2 separate regions of the Homo sapiens genome follow, and region 2 is linked to region 1. A link means that fine-mapping ties the variant in region 1 to the expression of a gene that starts in the linked region. Tissue or cell type: whole blood. Region 1 holds a variant in brackets; the other region holds the start of a gene. All regions are shown on one strand. Distances are between the middles of the regions.

Region 1 (8,170 bases):
CCTCGGCCTCCCAAAGTGCTGGGATTACAGGTGTGAGTCACCGCCCTGGCCCTAATTTTTGTTTTTTTAGTAGAGGTTTACAAACAGGTTTCTGCCATGTTGGCCAGACTGGTCTTGAACTCCTGACCTCAGGTGATCCACCCACCTCGGCCTCCCAAAGTGCTGGGATTACAGGTGTGAGCCACCACACCCGGCCTAACTTTAAACTTTTACTTTAGGTTTGGGGATATGTGAGGTTTGTTACATAGGTAAACACCTGTCACCAGGTTTGTTGTACATATTATCTCATCATCCAGGCATTAAGCCCAGTATTATTTTCTTCTTCGTGTTCATAAGCTCTCATCATTTAGCTCCCACATGTAAGTGAGAACATGTGGTATTTGGTTTTCTGTTCCTGTGTTAGTTTGCTAAGGATGATCGCCTCCAGCTCCATCCATGTTCCCACAAAAGACATGCTCTCATTTTTTTATAGCTGCATAGTATTCCATGGTGTATATGTACCACAGCTTTTTTTTTTTTTTTTTTTTTTTTTGAGACTGAGTCTCGCTCTGTCGCCCAGGCTGGGGTGCAATGGCGCAATCTCGGCTCACTGCAACCTCCACCTCCTGGACTCAAGCGATTCTCCTGCCTCAGCCTCTCAAGTAGCTGGGATTACAGGCACACACCATCACGCCCAGCTAATTTTTGTATTTTTAGTAGAGATGGGGTTTCACCATGTTGGCCAGGCTGGTCTTGTACTTCTGACCCCAGGTGTTCCACCCGCCTCAGCCGCCCAAAGTGCTGGGATTACAGGCGTAAGCCACTGTGCCCGGCTGTACCACATTTTCTTTATCCAATCTGTCACTGATGGGCATTTAGGTTTTTGTTTGTTTGTTTGAGATGGAGTCTCACTCTGTAGCCCAGACTAGACTGCAGTGGTGGCATGATCTTGGCTCACTGCAACCTCCACCTCCCGGATTCAAGTGATTCTCCTGTCTCAGCCTCCCAACTACCTGGGATTACAGGCAACTGCCAGTACACCCAGCTAATTGTATTTTTAGTAGAGATGGGATTTCACCATGTTGGCCAGGCTGGTCTCGAACTCCTGACCTCAGGTGATCTGCCTGCCTCGTCCTCCAAAAGTGCTGGGATTACAGGCCTGAGCCACCGGGCTGGCCAGCATTTAGGTTGATTCCATGTCTTTGCTCTTGTGAATAGTGCTGCACTCTCTACATCCACGTTTTCCCTCATGGTAATCTCATCCAGTTTTATGAGTTTTGCCATGGTTTGAATGCTTGTGTCCCTCCAAAATTCAGGGTCTCACTCTGTCACCCAGGCTGGAGGGCAGTGGCCCCATCACAGCTCACTGCATCCTCAACATCCCCAGGCTCAGGTGATCCTTCCACCCCAGCCTCCCAAGTAGCTGTGACTACAGGCATGGGCCACTATGCCTGGCTAATTTTTGTTTTTTGTAGAGACAGCATCTTGCCATGTTGCCCAGCCTGGTCTCAAACTCCTGGGCTCAAGCGATCCACCAACCTCAGCCTCCCAAAGTGCAGGGATTACAGGTGTGAGCCACTGCACCTGTCTCTAAGAGAGCTTTAAATATAATAAATGTGCTAATGATGCCAAACTTTTTTTTTGTTTTTTTGAGACAGAGTCTCACTCTATTGCCCAGGCTGGAGCGCAACGGCATGATCTTGGCTCACTGCAACCTCTGCCTCCCAGGTTCAAGTCATTCTCCTGCCTCAGCCTCCCGAGTAGCTGGGAATACAGGTGCGCACCACCACATCCGGCTAATTTTTGTATTTTTAGTAGAGACAGGGTTTCACCATGTTGGCCAAGCTGGTCTTGAACTCCTGACCTCGTGATCTGCCCGCCTCGGTCTCCCAAAATGCTGGGAGTACAGGCGTGAGCCACCGCGCTCAGCCATGATGCCAAACTTATATTCCCAGGCTGGACATCTCTGTGAACTCTATACTCACATATTCTACTTATACATTCAACTGCCTTGTAACCTTAACATGTAGCATAAGTAACACATTTTTATTTGGCTAAGCCGCTGAGAACTTGGGGTTGTTACTGCAGCATACCCAGGCCCATCCTGACATACACACCCCTCCACCACAGGTCCAAACATCACCACTTACCAGGAGAGGTCGAGTGTCCCTTATCCAAAATGCTCGGGACTAGAAGTGTTTCAGATTTTGGATTTTGGACTCTTTGTATTATACTTGCCTGATGGCGCTTTCCATATCCAAAATCCAAAATGCTCCAATGAGCACTTCCTTTGAGTGTCATGTCAGTGCTTACAAGGTTCAGATTTTGCAGCATCTCAGATTTCAGATCTGAATGCTCATCCTGTACTTGCCGCCCCTCCCGCCGCCCCATGTGCTGCTGCTTCTCAGTGGCCAGTTCATTGGCCACCTCTCCATTTTCTTTCGAGACGAAGTCTTGCTCTGTCGCCCAGGCTGTAGTGCAGTGGCGTGATCTAGGCTCACTGCAAGCTCCACCTCCCAGGTTCAGGCCATCCATTTTCTTTCATGACAGAGTCTTGCCCTGTTGCCCAGGTTGGAGTGCAGTGGAGTGATCTCAGCTCACTGCAACCTCTGCCTCCTGGGTTCAAGCGATTCTCCTGCCTCAGCCTCCCGAGTAGCTGGGATTACAGGCATGTGCCACCACACCTGGCTAATTTTTGTATTTTTAGTAGAGACAGGGTTTTGCCCTGTTGGCCAGGTTGGTGTTGAACTCCTGGCCTCAAGTGATCCACCCACCCCGGCCTCCCAAAGTGAGCCACCACACCCAGCCCCACCTCTCTATTTTCAAACATGCCAGACATGTCGCAGCTTAGGGCCTTTGCACAGGCCGTTCCTTCTGCCAAGAATGTTCTGCCCTGTATAGCCACACGGCTCACTCTGTCTCCTTCCACTGCAAGTTCCAATGCTGTTTTCTCAGAGGACGGCTCTGCCCACCCCTGCAGCAGGGCCTCTGACTGCCTTATGGTGATGGACTTGTTCTCCCCATTGCACTTCTCACTGGCCAACGCGGTGTATGGTTCCTCATTACGTGTATGTTCTGCCCCCCTCACTCGAGTATGAGCAGGGGCTTTCATTGATTTTGTTCATTGGTGTGGAGCAGTTTCAGCAGTGGGAGGGGTGAAAGCCCAGCTGGAGTGGGCTGTCAGGAGACTTGGGCGGTAGGCAGAATGCCCCCCAAAGGTGTCACGCCCTTATGCCTGCGCCTGTAATATTATGTTACATAACAAAAGGGACTTTGCAGATGTAAGTAGGTTACCAATTAGTGACCTTAAAATAGGGAGATTATCCTGTTTATCTGGGTGGACCCAATCTAATCACAGGAACACTTAAAGGCATAAA[G/A]CTTTCTCCAGCTGAAGGTGGGAGAAATGGGACAGAAAGGATCAAAGACGTGAAGTAGTAGAAAGGCTGGCTTTGGCCGGGCACAATGGCTCACACCTGTAATCCCAGCATTTTGGGAGGCTGAGGCGGGCGGATCACTTGAAGCCGGGAGTTCAAGACTAGCCTGGCTGGCATGGTGAAACCATGTCTACTAAAAATTTAAAAATTAGCTGGGCATGGTGGAGGGCACCTGTAGTCCCAGCTACTCGGGAAGCTGAGGCAGGAGAATCACTTGAACCCGGGAGGCGGAGGTGGCAGCGACCCGAGATTGTACCACTGCACTCCGGCCTGGATGACGAAGCCAGACTCTGTCTAAAAAGAAAAGAAAGTCTTGCTGGTTTTGAAGATGTGAGCGACCTCTAGAAGCTGAGAACAACCCCGGGCCGGCAGCCAGCAAGCGGAGACCTCATACAACCATGTGATGAATGTCAACAACCTGAAGGAGCCTGTAGCCCGGGTCTCCCCTAGGGCCCCTGCTAAGAGCTGAGGCAGCTGACACCCTGATTTCAGCCCTGAGACCTGCAGCAGAGAAGCCAGTCAAACCCACCTGCACTTCTAATGCACAGAACCGTGAGATAATGGGTGCTCTTTTGTGGTTGGTTGTTATAAAGTGATAGAAAACGAATTAACTAGGAGATAAGAGGAGACGCCAAGTACAGACAACCTGTTAAAAACTCTTGCTGGGATGGGAAGTAGGAAAATGAGGCAGTGGCTGGAAAGGGATGGGGGAGTCAAGGGCTTCTTTTTAAGGTGCCTGCCCCTGGGAGAGGGAAGCTGCAGTGAGAGGAAGCACCGCCCCAGCGTTACATAATTCCACCCTCGCAGGACACAGAGGCAGGGGTGCCACATTCATACTTGGGTAGAATGTGTAGATAAAGCAGCCGGCTTGTGGTGGACCAGGTATGAGTTCCCAAGCCAGCTGGGCACTGCCCGCAGCACTGCGCTGTGTCAACACCTGCAGGTCTTTCTCGGCTTTGGAGCCAAGAAGTCACCTTGCCAGGAACAGCCTCCAACCAATGACTGCAAGGTGAGAGGTGAATGCTGGGTCCCCTTGCAGCAGGGTGAAGGGTGAATGCCTTGGCTCCCCTGGCCCTCGGGGAGGGACTCTGAGGATGGTTCCTACACAAGCGCCTGCTACAGTAACTGGACTGGTAGCACCCCCTTCCCTGCCTCACACCCCTACTCTCCTGCTGGTGTCTCCTGGGGTCTTCTCTCAAGCTAACAATTTGGACTTTTTTTTTTTTTTGACGGAGTTTCACTCTGTTGCCCAGACTGGAGTGTGGTGGCACAATCTTGGCTCACTGCAACCTCTGCCTCCTGGGTTCACGCGATGTTCCTGCCTCAGCCTCCCAAGTAGCTGGGAATACAAGTGTGTGCCACCACATCCGCTAATTTTTGTATTTTTAGTAGAAACGGGATTTCACCCTGTTGGCCAAGCTGGTCTTGAACTCCTGACCTCAGGTGATCCACTTGCCTCGGCCTCCCAAAGTGCTGGGATTACAGGTATGAGCCACCAGGCCCGGACAAAATTTGGACTCGAATCCATTTCAAGTCAACCTCTGGGGGAACCTGGACTATGACACCAGTGCTTTTCAACTACCCTAGGGAGCACCCACCAAGCTCCACTTCTTTTCACAAAGCAGTTGCTCATAATCTCATCACACCCTTGCAACTCCATGAGGTTGAGATTGGTAGGGCAGGTACTTTTTTTTTTTTTTTTGAGACGGAGTCTCGCTCTGTCGCCCAACCTGGAGTGCAGTGGCACGATCTCGGCTCACTGCAAGCTCTGCCTCCCGGGTTCAAGCCATTCTCTTGCCTCAGCCTCCCAAGTAGCTGGGACTACAGGCACCCGCCACCACGCCCGGCTTTTTTTTTTGTATTTTTAGTAGAGGTGGGGTTTCACCGTGTTAGCCAGGATGGTCTCCAGCTCCTGACCTCGTGATCTGCCCGCCTCGGCCTCCCAAAGTGCTAGGATTACAGGCATGAGCCACCGCGCGCGGTCGGACAGGCATGTTTTGAGCAAGGCCCAGCCTGAACCCCAATGTGTGTCTCAGGCAGGCCAGGACTCATCAGCCCCTTCAGTCCTCTAGGGTGTCTGGGGTACTGGCAAGTACCAGGGGACCCAGAGATGGAACGTCTGGGCTCACTCATGTACACCCTTTGCAGGCTGGGGCACGGTGGCTCATGCCTGTAATCCCAGCACTTTGGGAGGCCGAGGTGGGCCGATCACCTCAGGTTGGGAGTTCGAGACCATCCTGGCCAATATGGAAAAACCTCACTTCTACTAAAAATACAAAAATTAGCCGGACATGGTGGCGCGTGCCTGTAGTCCCAGCTACTCGGGAGGCTGAGGCAGGAGAGTCGCTTGAACCCGAGAGGCAGAGGCTGCAGTGAGCCGAGATCGTGCCACTGCACTCTAGCCTGGGTGACAGAGCAAAACTCTGACTCAAAAAAAAAAAAAAAAAAAGCAAGAAAAGAAAACGGAACCCAGCAAGCCAGAAAGGAGCCTGTGCAGCTCCTCAGGTGCAGGAGTCGCCCTTGAGGCAGGGTGAGGCCTCCTCACGGGCGACTGGACACCGGCGGAGCAGGACGCAGGACCTAGCCCCGTTCGCTCCAGGCTGCAGGGGAGCCACGCTGCCCACCACGGCGTACCCAGTCCCTCCCTGAGCGGGTCTCGGCTTTCCCGCGGAGCCTAATGGGCCTCACTGGAGTTCCGTTTCCAGACGCCTTGGACCAGGCTGCTCTGGAGGTCAGCCGCCCCCGAGGCTGAAGAGCCGGCGGCTCGGAGAAGGCTGCGCGGGAGGCCGCGCCCTCCGGGTCGCGTGGGCCGGGCGTCCGCTGTCTCTCCAGAAACACCCGCGTCCCGCGGCAACGGCCTCTTCCTAGCCCGCCTCGCCCGCTCCCCGCCCGCCCAGAGGGCCCCGCACGAGCTCCGTCCACCTCCTCCTTCCGCGCTCGGGGCCAGGACGGCGGCGGGAAACAGCTTACGGAGGCTACCGCAAGGGAGGCGAAAAGCAGCCAGCTCGCAGAGCTCCACGGACCCGGCGCGAGTCCCCAGCCACACTCCGCACTGCCCCTCTAGGCGCGGCGCCGCTGCCCGCACAAAGCTTCCCGCGAAACTGACGTCGGCGCGCGCAGGCACCGCCCCCGGCCTCGCCCCTCCCCCGCGCTCGCCCCGCTCCCCAGAGCGCCGGCGCACTCGCCCTCCTCCTATTGGTTGTTGCGGGGCGGCGCGCGCCGGTCGGCGCCGTGCGCGCCTAGCCATTGGCCGAGCGGCGGCGGGCCGGGGGGTGTGTCCGGGGCTGCGCCCCGCCCCTCCGCTCCGCTCGCTGTGGTGCGCGCGGTGGCGGTGGCGGCGGCGGCGGCGGCGCGTGGCAGGTCCGGCGGGCGCGAGGCGGCGGCGGAGGCCCGAGCCCGGCCCAGCCTCGTCCCGCCCGGAGCCCGCCTGGCTGCTACCCCGACCCCGGCTCCGGTCCCGTCCTGTCCCGGCGCGCCGCGGCCTCGCCCCGGCCCCCGCTCGGCGCCTCCCGAGGGAGCGGCGCTGCCGGCCGAGAGCGCAGGCCCGGCCATGACCGACTTCAAATTGGGTATCGTGCGGCTCGGCCGGGTGGCCGGGAAGGTGAGCGGCGCGGAGCCCGCGACCCGGCCCGTCTCGCCCGTCCAGGCCTCCGCGCGGGGCCGGGGGCGGTTGTGCGGGCGGCGGCCGGGGCGGGGGCGCGGAGCCCGGGATGGGCCCCAGCGGGGCGGGGGACGCTGCGCGGGCCCGGCTGCTGGCCCCGCGCGGGTGCAGCTTCCTCTCGCAGGCCGGCGGGCACGCACCCCTCGGCTCTGGGGTGCACCTGGCCACCCTCGGCCCTGCCCTGCCGGAGGTGGAGGCCACGGCCCTGTCCCGAGCCGGGTGCGGAGATGCGTGGCTCGAGCCCGAGCCGCGTTCTCCCGGAGCCCTCCCAGTGGTGTCGGCGATCCGGGGCCTAGCGCGGCGTCCGGGCTGCCAGTGCGGCCACACGGTTTAAACACAGCGCCCTTTCCGAGGCAGCGCCACTTCCACACCTCTCGCCGAGGCGGGTCTGGTGTGGGCTCTTCTGTGCCTCCCAGTTCTCAGCAGGGCTTCAGGCTCGTTTTAACGCTGCCAGGGGTTGGCCACGTTAGGCTGAGCCTCAGACTCGGAGCAGAGAGGAAGAAGCCTGGGCCCTGATGCTGCAGACTCAGGGCCTTCCTCGACTTCTCTTCTTACTTGGCCCCCACGCTCCACGTTTGAGGCTGGGGATTCCATGGCACCTGTGGGCATTGAGGCTTGGCGGTTTCTCGGAGCCACCTGTGCAGCTGCACCAGCCAGGGTCCTTACCCGGATGGGAGCCCTGTTCCCGTCACCAGCGGCTGCGGCTTTTGGTGGGAGAGAGGAGCCGAGGCAGTGTCAGGCGGCGTCAGGTAAAACAGGTTCAGATCCCAGAAGAAAAACTGCCAAGAGGGAGACTGGCCCGTTCTGGGACCTGTTCCTGTTTCCTGCCCCTGCTGCAAGAGCATAGGCAGGGCCTGCTGGGGAGGAGGCTTTTTTCCACCAGGGAAGGGTGGGCTCTCCAGTCAGGTCGGAGACCAGAGACCCCTTCTAACTCCACCCATGATGGCATTGTCATCCCTTACAGCTTTTCTTTGGAACATTTCAGATGGACAAAAAGCTAAAAAGGGTAATCAGTGAGTAGCTCAGCTTAATAAACACACCCTAATCAAAACCTTCTGGCTCTTCTGCCTCAGCCCCGGCCCCTCCCTCAGCTCAG
Region 2 (8,163 bases), 42 kb after region 1:
GCGAGTGAGTGCCCGGGACCACCTCATCAGAGATGCTTACTGCAGCCCTGCAGGTGCCTGTGCACTGATGGAATCCACAGTGTAGTCAGAAAAGCTGTTGACTTCTCTTAAATCAGCTTCCCTGCTGGGCCCCTGAAAGTGGACTGGGTGATTCTGTCTGGCAGAGAGTGGGGAAAAGACGCGGTTTCCAGCTTGCAGATTTGTTAAGTTTCTCAGGCAGATTTTGACTTTCAGCCTTTCATACTTGTTTAAGCAACTATTTGTATTAAATGAAGTTTTTTGAAAAACACGAGTTTATAACATGTTTAAAATGAACATTTTATGCCTCATCATGGCACCAGAAATGCTTGTATAGATTGAGCACAGCCAGTCCAAAAATCCAAAATCCCAAAACTTTTGGAAAATCCCGCAGCTGAACTCATGTGACGGGTTGCATATATTATTAAAACTACTGAGCACAGTCACAGTGGCCTGTAATCCCAGCACTTTGGAAGGGGCTGAGGCAGGAGGATTGCTTGAGGCCTGGAGTTCAAGACCAGCCTGGGCAACATAGCAAAACCCAGTCTCTATAAAAAGTAAAACAAAAATTAGCCAGGTGTGGTGCATGTGCCTATGGTCCCAGCCACTTGGGAGGCTGAGGCAGGAGGATTGTTGAGCCCAGGAGGTCGAGGCTGCAATGAGCCAGGGGCAACAGAGCAAGACTCTTATCTCTAAAAATTAAATAATAAAAAATTGTATAAACAATAATTGAGGACAACCAGTTACAGATTCATTCCTTCTCTCACAGCTTCATTTGACTAGCCTAAAAAACATATATATTGTATAAAACTACCCTCAGGCTATGTGTATAAGGTGTACATGAAACAAAATTGAATTTCATGTTTAGACTTGTATCTCATCTCATCCCCAAGATGTCTCATTATGTACATGCAGATATTCCAAAATCTGAAATCCAAAACATTTCTGGTTCCAAGCTTTTTTTTTTTTTGCCCCCCGAGATGGAGTTTTGCTCTTGCTGCCCAGGCTGGGGTGCAATGGCACAATCTTGACTCACTGCAACCTCCGCCTCCCAAGTTCAAGCGATTCTCCTGCCTCACCCTCCCAATAGCTGGCATCCACCAGCATGCCCGGCTAATTTTGTATATTTAGTAGAGACAAGGTTTCTCCATGTTGGTCAGGCTGCTCTCAAACTCTGGACCTCAGGTGATCCGTCCACCTTGGCCGCCCAAAGTGCCGGGATTACAGGCGTTGAGCTGTGCCTTTTTTTTTTTTTGAGACAGAGTCATGCTCGTCACCCAGGCTGGAGTGCAGTGGCTCAATCTCGGTGGCTCCATCTCGACTCACTGCCCTCCACCTCCCAGGTTCAAGTGATTCTCCTGCCTCAGCCTCCGGAGTAGCTGGGATTACAGGTGTGTGCCACCATGCCTGGCTAATTTTTGTATTTTTAGTACAAATGGGGTTTCACCATGTTGGCCAGGCTCCTGACCTCAGATGACCCGCCTGTCTCGGCTTCCCAAAGTGCTGGGATTACAGGCATGAGCCAGGGCGCCCAGCCCCAAGCATTTTGGATAACGACGCTCAACCTGTATTGGATCCCTATGCAGGTAAGTAAAAGGGAGTGTGTGTTCCAAGTTGCCTTGGGGGTCATCAGCTTGAAATATGTGAAGTCTGTAGGGAACACTCATCACTGCAGCACCCACACGGGTTAGCTCCCAAATACTGGACAGATGGTGACTTTAGGTGTGTGAACAAACTGGGTGTGTTACATCCAACTCCTGCTGTGAGGGCTTTTGTCTCTCTGGGAGGAACTGTGGTTGAGGTACAGGCCACTATTTGTCAAATCCTCAGCATTTACTAATGATACATAGGTGACTACAAGCAAAAAAACATGCAGTTTTATCCCTTTTTTGAGACGGAGTCTCACTCTGTTACCCAGGCTGGAGTGCAGTGGTGCGATCTCGACTCACTGCAAGCTCTGCCTCCTGGGTTTAAGCGATTCTCTTGCCTTTGGAGTAGCTGGGACTACAGTCGCACGCCACCACGCCTGGCTAATTTTTGTATTTTTAGTAGAGATGGGGTTTCATCATGCTGGCCAGGCTGGTCTTGAACTCCTAATCTTGTGATCCTCCCGCCTCAGCCTCCCAATGTGCTGGGATTACAGGCGTGAGCCACCGCACCTGGCCTTATCCCTTTCTTCTTTTCTGATGATACAACACAACATGTCACTATATGTCAGATTGCAACAGGAAATTTTCCTAGGCTGGGCGCAGTGGCTCACACCTGTAATCCCAGCATTTTGGGAGGCTGAGGCGGGCGGATCATTTCAGCCCATGAGTTCTCAGCCTGGGCAGCATAGTGAGACCCCCATCTCTGTATCTTTGTTCCCTGGGTGAATAATTTGGGGGATGAACTGACCAGTGCTGTCATCCGGCACAATCTGCCTTGTAAATTCTTTCTCCTGCAAGCTGAGTGATGTTTGCCCTTGGCAGGTTCCCAGAACCTTCGGACTCGGAAGATGACCTCCAAAGAGGTTCACAGCGCCGAGTCTGCATGAGAACTCGGCTTAGGTGCCTGCACTGAAATCTGTCATGCTGCACACTTTGCCATGACCTGAGGCCAAAAAACAAACACCGTATAGCTGGCAAAGGCGTTTAATAGAAATGAGATGAGGGCAGGCCGCCCCTCCCCCGCCCAGCTAGCGCAGGAAGTTCCTGGGGTAGAGCTGGAAGAGCTTTCCCTCCTGTGTGGGCTCGAAGCCGTACTTTTCCAGGTTGTCAGGGTCGAAGGTACCGTCCTTGAAGTCCTTTTCGATGGCAGGCGCCACGGCTTCGCTGAAGAGCTGCGCGGCCGTCAGGGGCGTCTCCTCGCTCTCAGGGGCGAGGTAGCTCACGTAGGGCTTGAGCTTGAAGCCGGTCAGATCCGGGACGACGAACTCCGGGACCATCTCCTTGATCTGCACGAACCTCCAGCCCGAGGTGAGGAAGCCGATGCCCTTGGCGCCCCGGCCCTTGCGGCCCCTGAAGCTGCGCGGGCCCCGCTTGCTCGTCCACTTGCTCATTCGGTCCGCACCCCGGACCAGGCAGCGCGCCGCTGCGGCCAGGACGCCCATGCCGCGCCCTGCGGGAGGAGAGAGCGGGTAGTCGCGGCCCCGGGAACCCGGCCAGCCCCGCCCCTGGCCGCGCGCGGCGCCCGCCCCAATCCGACAGACTCACCTGGACCGGAGACCCCACACGAGCTCCAAGCGGCCCCGGCTCCGGCGCCAACCCGGCCTCGACCTTGCTCCGCTTCCGACCGCTGCGTCGCAGCAAGAGCGGCTCCGATTGGCCGCGGCCGCCGCGTCCAATAGCGGCCCCAATCTGGTAGGGGGTGTGGCCGCGGGGACTCGGCCAATGCGAGGAGCGCGCGGGGCGGGGCGGGGCTCGCGGGGCTGGCGGTGCGGGGCCGGCGGTGCGGGGCTCGCGGGGCGGGGCTCGCGGGGCGGGGCTCGCGGGGCGGGGCTCGCGGGGCGGGGCTCGCGGGGCGGGGCTCGCGGGGCGGGGCTGGCGGATGAGTGATCGCTCTCAGCGCGGTGGTCCCTGGCGTCTCCACTGCCCGCCACTGCCTGTGTTCGTCCGCCAGGTGGCCGGCGGTTTCCCGGGAGCCCAGTCCCCCTGAGGCCGTGAGGTGGCGTCGGGAGGTCGGGGAGGACGCGGGCCCTGGACTCGAGACGGCCGCCGCGTTGACGCCGCGACCCTGCCTTTCTTACCCCTCCGCCGGGCGCGGCTCCTCTGGGCGGAGCCGGCAACCGCGCGGGGAAAGCCCGGGACCTGCAGCCGGGAGGGCCCGGGCTGTCTGTGCTCCCCCGCAGGCCGGGCAGTGGTGTGGGGGGACTCGAGCCCTCGCGGTGCCCAAATTAATCAATAATCTTGGACCCAGCACGTCCGGCTTGCGCACTGAGCCCTCCTGCCCGGTCACCCTCGCAGGCGACCTCTCACCCCACGCGGAAGTCGCCCCCCAGCCGCACCCTCACAATCCGGATCCACCCCCTCCCCAGCTGCACCCCGTCCCCAGCGGCACCCCCACAGCCCAGATCCATCCCCTCTCCAGCTGCACGCCCTTCCCCAGCGGTACCCCCACACCCCAGATCCATCCCCTCCCCAGCTGCACCCCCTCCCCAGCGGCACCCCCACGCCCCAGATCCACCCCCTCCCCAGCTGCACCCCCTCCCCAGCGGCACCCCCACGCCCCAGATCCACCCCCTCCCCAGCTGCACCCCCTCCCCAGCGGCACCCCCACACCCCAGATCCACCCCCTCCCCAGCTGCACCCCCTCCCTAGCGGTACCCCCACTCGCCGGATCCACGCGCTCCCCAGCTGCACCCTCTCCCCAGCAGTACCCCCACACCCCAGATCCACCCCCTCCCCAGCTGCACCCACTCCCCAGCGGTACCCCTACACGCCGGATCCACCCCCTCCCCAGCTGCACCCACTCCCCAGCGGCACCCCCACACCCCAGATCCACCCCCTCCCCAGCTGCACCCACTCCCCAGCGGTACCCCTACACGCCGGATCCACCCCCTCCCCAGCTGCACCCTCCTCCCCAGCTGCATCCCCACACCCCGGATCCACGCCCCGCCAGCGTCACCTCCCCTCCAGCCGTGCTTCTCCAGAAGGCAGCGCTGCCCCCATCCCCGCCGCGCTGGGCCTGGCTCCTCTTGACCTGCTTGGATACGCCCCATCTGGCTGCTGTTCTGGGTTCCGGGACAGCCACGTGAGGGCTGTTTACAGAGGGAAGGAGGTGGCTCCTAGCAGATGACAGACACTTCTCAAAAGACAGCTTTTCTTCCTGGAGAACAGACTTTTTCAGCAGGATTTTCCTTTCAGTGAAACATAATTTGACTTGAAAGGAACCCAGGGAAAAGTGTCCAGGTGTGAGCATGAGCGGGTAGAGGTGTGCCCTTGTTTGCTTCAGGCTGTCTGCTTTTCGCCCCTGACTGTTTTTTCTGTTTCTGGCCATGGAGGAAGAGAAAGATGACAGCCCACAGGTATGTAACTCGGGGGACCAGATGCCTGGATTTCCCAGTTGGGGGGCATTTCTGGACCCAGAGAAGGGTCCTCTTGGCGTCTGCTCTGCCGCGCTCTTTGGCCCCGTGGCTTCTTGGCGCCTGAGGACTGTGGGAGTGGTGGATCTGGCCCCTCTCTGCTGCCTGTCACAGCTGCCAGCACTTGTTAGACGCGCCTGTCACAGCAGACAGCCAGTGGTGGCCCATGGGCATTGTTCACAGCGAGGGCAGCCAGCGGTGGCCCATGGGCATTGCCTGAGGCCTTGTCTTTTCTTCCCCTAAGGTCACAGTTGCTACTTCCAGTTCCTTTAGGACTTTGCCTGATGGTTTTGCTTAGAACCTTTTTCTGTGTTTTTTTTTTTCCCAAGACGGAGTCTCGCTCTGTCGCCCAGGCTGGTGTGCAATGGTGTGATCTTGGCTCACAGCAACCTCCGCCTCCTGGGTTCAGGCAATTCTGCCTCAGCCTCCCGGGTAGCTGGGACTACAGGCACCACGCCCGGCTAATTTTTGTATTCTTAGTAGAAACGGGGTTTCGCCATGTTGGCCAGGCTGGTCTTGAACTTTTTTTTTTTTTTTTTTTGAGACGGAGTCTTGCTCTGTCGCCCAAGCTGGATTGCAGTGGCACGATCTCAACTCACTGCAAGCTCTGCCTCCCAGGTTCACGCCATTCTCCTGCCTCGGCCTCCCAAGTAGCTGGGACTACAGGCGCCCACCACCACGCCCGGCTAATATTTTTTTGTATTTTCAGTAGAGACGGTGTTTCACTGTGTTAGCCAGGATGGTCTCGATTTCCTGACCTCGTGATCCGCCCGCCTTGGCCTCCCAAAGTGCAGGGATTACAGGCATGAGCCACCGTGCCCGGCCTAGTCTTGAACTCTTGACCTCATGATCTGCCCGCCTCGGCCTCCCAAAGTGCTGGGATTACAGGCGTGAGACACTGTGCCCAGCCCTAGAATCTTTTTCTTAGTCAAACATCTGTAGCCACATGGCAAAGGCCTTATTTCCTAAACCAGAACACTGGACCCATTAAAGCAACAGTGAAAAGCTAGAAAAGGCTGAGCCGCTCCACCGCAGGAGAGCCTGTGACCAGGTCACGGGCCATCGCGTGATAGGCCTTCCTTGGATAATCGGTCCCAGAAGCGGTTGCTGGGCTGAGGGACTCACTTCGCTTCCTTAAGTGAGGGACATGGTCGTAGGTGCTTCTCTGCTCCCCACCTGGTTGAGAGTGAGCGTAGGGGTTCCCCTGTCCTGAAGCAGAAGCTCCCAGGGCTTGTATTTGCTTCTGAACCAAGTTCGAAGGGCTCAGCTTTCTGGGCACGTCCTCATTCTGTCTTGGTGCAGAATTGTGTCTTTAAATGCGTTTCTGAGTGCTCTTCTGACTTCCCTGAGTTTTCTTTTTTTTGAGATGGAGTCTCGCTCTGTCGCCCAGGCTGGAGTGCAGTAGCACAATCTCAGCTCACTGCAAGCTCTGCCTCCCGGGTTCACGCCATTCTCCTGCCTCAGCCTCCCAAGTAGCTGGGACTACAGGCACCCACCACCACGCCCGGCTAATTTTTGAATTTTTAGTAGAGACGGGGTTTCACCGTGTTAGCCAGGATGGTCTCGATCTCCTGACCTCATGATCCGCCCGCCTCAGCCTCCCAAAGTGCTGGGATTGCAGGCGTGAGCCACTGCGCCCGGCCCTTCCCTGGATTTTCTGGCACGGATGGGAGTCCTGCTCTCTGCAGTGAGGCGGGGGTGGGTGTTGTTTTAGGCCTTGGCTCTTGTGTAGAAACTTTCAGGCTGAACCAGTGGCTTCCCCTGCCCTATCCGGTTCCTGGCTGCCTGGGAGGAAGGTGTGATGCCAGCAGGAATGGAGAGGGCTGCCTGTCTGGCTGGTGTCGTCTTCTCGTCTTCTCGTTTTCTCTTTCACTTCTTGGAACCACCAGCGTCCTCTGCTGTCGTTCACTCACCATCCTGCCCTCACCCTCTCTTCCCTCCCTCCCGCGGACCTGGACTTCTGAAGTCCTGCTGCTCCAGGAGACTGCAGGACACAGAGCCTTCTCGGCCGCTGCCTCCTTGTTTGGCATGTGAACTGGTGTTGAATGTTCTCAGAATCCAGATGGCTCATAGGGGTTTTGAGCACTGCTCCTGCTGGGGCTGAGGCGACACTGAGAGGGGGGCCTTGGCCTCCCCTTTGGCCAGGCCTGCTCCCTGAGACCTGCATCCCAAGGATTGCATCACCAGCATGTGGGTGTGTTAGTGATGCCTGGGGCAGCCGCTGGCCCTGCCCCACTGTATCCCAGTGACTGAGGGAGCCAGGTTGCTCTCTGAGTGCTTCCTAGCAGGGGGCTCAGAGGACCCCGGCACCCCGGGCGAGATCACTTCTTCCCAGAAGTCTCCAGGGCTGCTGACTTCTCCCCTAACTCCCAGCTCTCCTCCTGCTGCTCTGAACAAGTTCGGGCTGGGAAGCCTGTCCATGCCCACCTGACCCCATGCTCTCTGCTGCAGGCTGACTTCTGCCTGGGCACCGCCCTGCACTCTTGGGGACTGTGGTTCACGGAGGAAGGTTCACCGTCCACCATGGTAATCACCTCACGCTTCCCTGGAGCCAGACCTGGATGGGCCGTGGCCTTTTTCACCTCTCCCTGTCCCCATCCCCTGGCTCATTCCTGCCCAGCCTGTGGTTGGGCAGCCAGGGGTGGGGGCAGGCTTAGGGCTAGGGTTAGGTTTGTGGCTTTGCTGATGGGCGCCGTGTTTCCACTCTCGGCCAGCTGACGGGGATTGCAGTTGGAGCCCTCCTGGCCCTGGCCTTGGTTGGTGTCCTCATCCTTTTCATGTTCAGAAGGCTTAGACAATTTCGTGAGTATCTTGGTTCCGACTCTGGCCCGGGGGGTTGGGGGAAAGCGTGGGTGTCTTGGGATGTGTTTTGAGCCCCTGGGAGGGGCCCTCAAGCGCATGGTGGCTTTGGCTAGAATCTGATGGCCCGTCTGGGCTCAGGCTGAGCCCGTCGGTTCCAGGAAGCCAAGTCTGTTCAGAGCCCTTTCTGTTCTCCTCTCCTGAGCAAGGCTTCAGTGGGAAGAGGGGAGAGCCCCCTTTGTTGGAGATGAGCCTGTCACTCAGGCCCTCTTCCCTCATGCTGT

What was found. PIP is the estimated chance that this variant, and not a neighbour inherited with it, causes the effect.
Region 2: it holds the start of MRPL41, and the variant in region 1 is fine-mapped to the expression of MRPL41 in whole blood (TOPMed, PIP above 0.99).

The regions. Positions count from the first base shown.
Region 1 is chr9:137,589,057-137,597,226 of GRCh38, reverse strand. It overlaps ZMYND19 (zinc finger MYND-type containing 19), which reads left to right and starts at 6,715. Exons shown (of 6, transcript NM_138462.3): 1 at 6,715-7,014. The coding sequence starts at 6,964. It overlaps LOC124902318 (a long non-coding RNA gene), which reads left to right. Exons shown (of 3, transcript XR_007061885.1): 2 at 4,357-4,422; 3 at 6,119-6,188. RefSeq lists silencers at 6,170-6,239, 6,430-6,819, 7,100-7,209, 7,260-7,309 and enhancers at 7,580-7,629, 8,152-8,170. The variant G/A (reference allele first, on the strand shown) is at 3,357.
Region 2 is chr9:137,547,028-137,555,190 of GRCh38, reverse strand. It overlaps MRPL41 (mitochondrial ribosomal protein L41), which reads right to left and starts at 3,312. Exons shown (of 2, transcript NM_032477.3): 1 at 3,213-3,312; 2 at 2,636-3,117. The coding sequence starts at 3,109. The coding sequence ends at 2,696. PNPLA7 (patatin like domain 7, lysophospholipase) reads left to right here and starts at 4,789. Exons shown (of 35, transcript NM_001098537.3): 1 at 4,789-5,023; 2 at 7,532-7,606; 3 at 7,795-7,882. The coding sequence starts at 4,994. It overlaps DPH7 (diphthamide biosynthesis 7), which reads left to right. Exons shown (of 9, transcript NM_138778.5): 9 at 1-747. It overlaps LOC124902317 (a long non-coding RNA gene), which reads left to right and starts at 1,511. Exons shown (of 2, transcript XR_007061883.1): 1 at 1,511-1,604; 2 at 2,490-2,664. RefSeq lists a silencer at 3,041-3,990 and an enhancer at 5,179-5,680.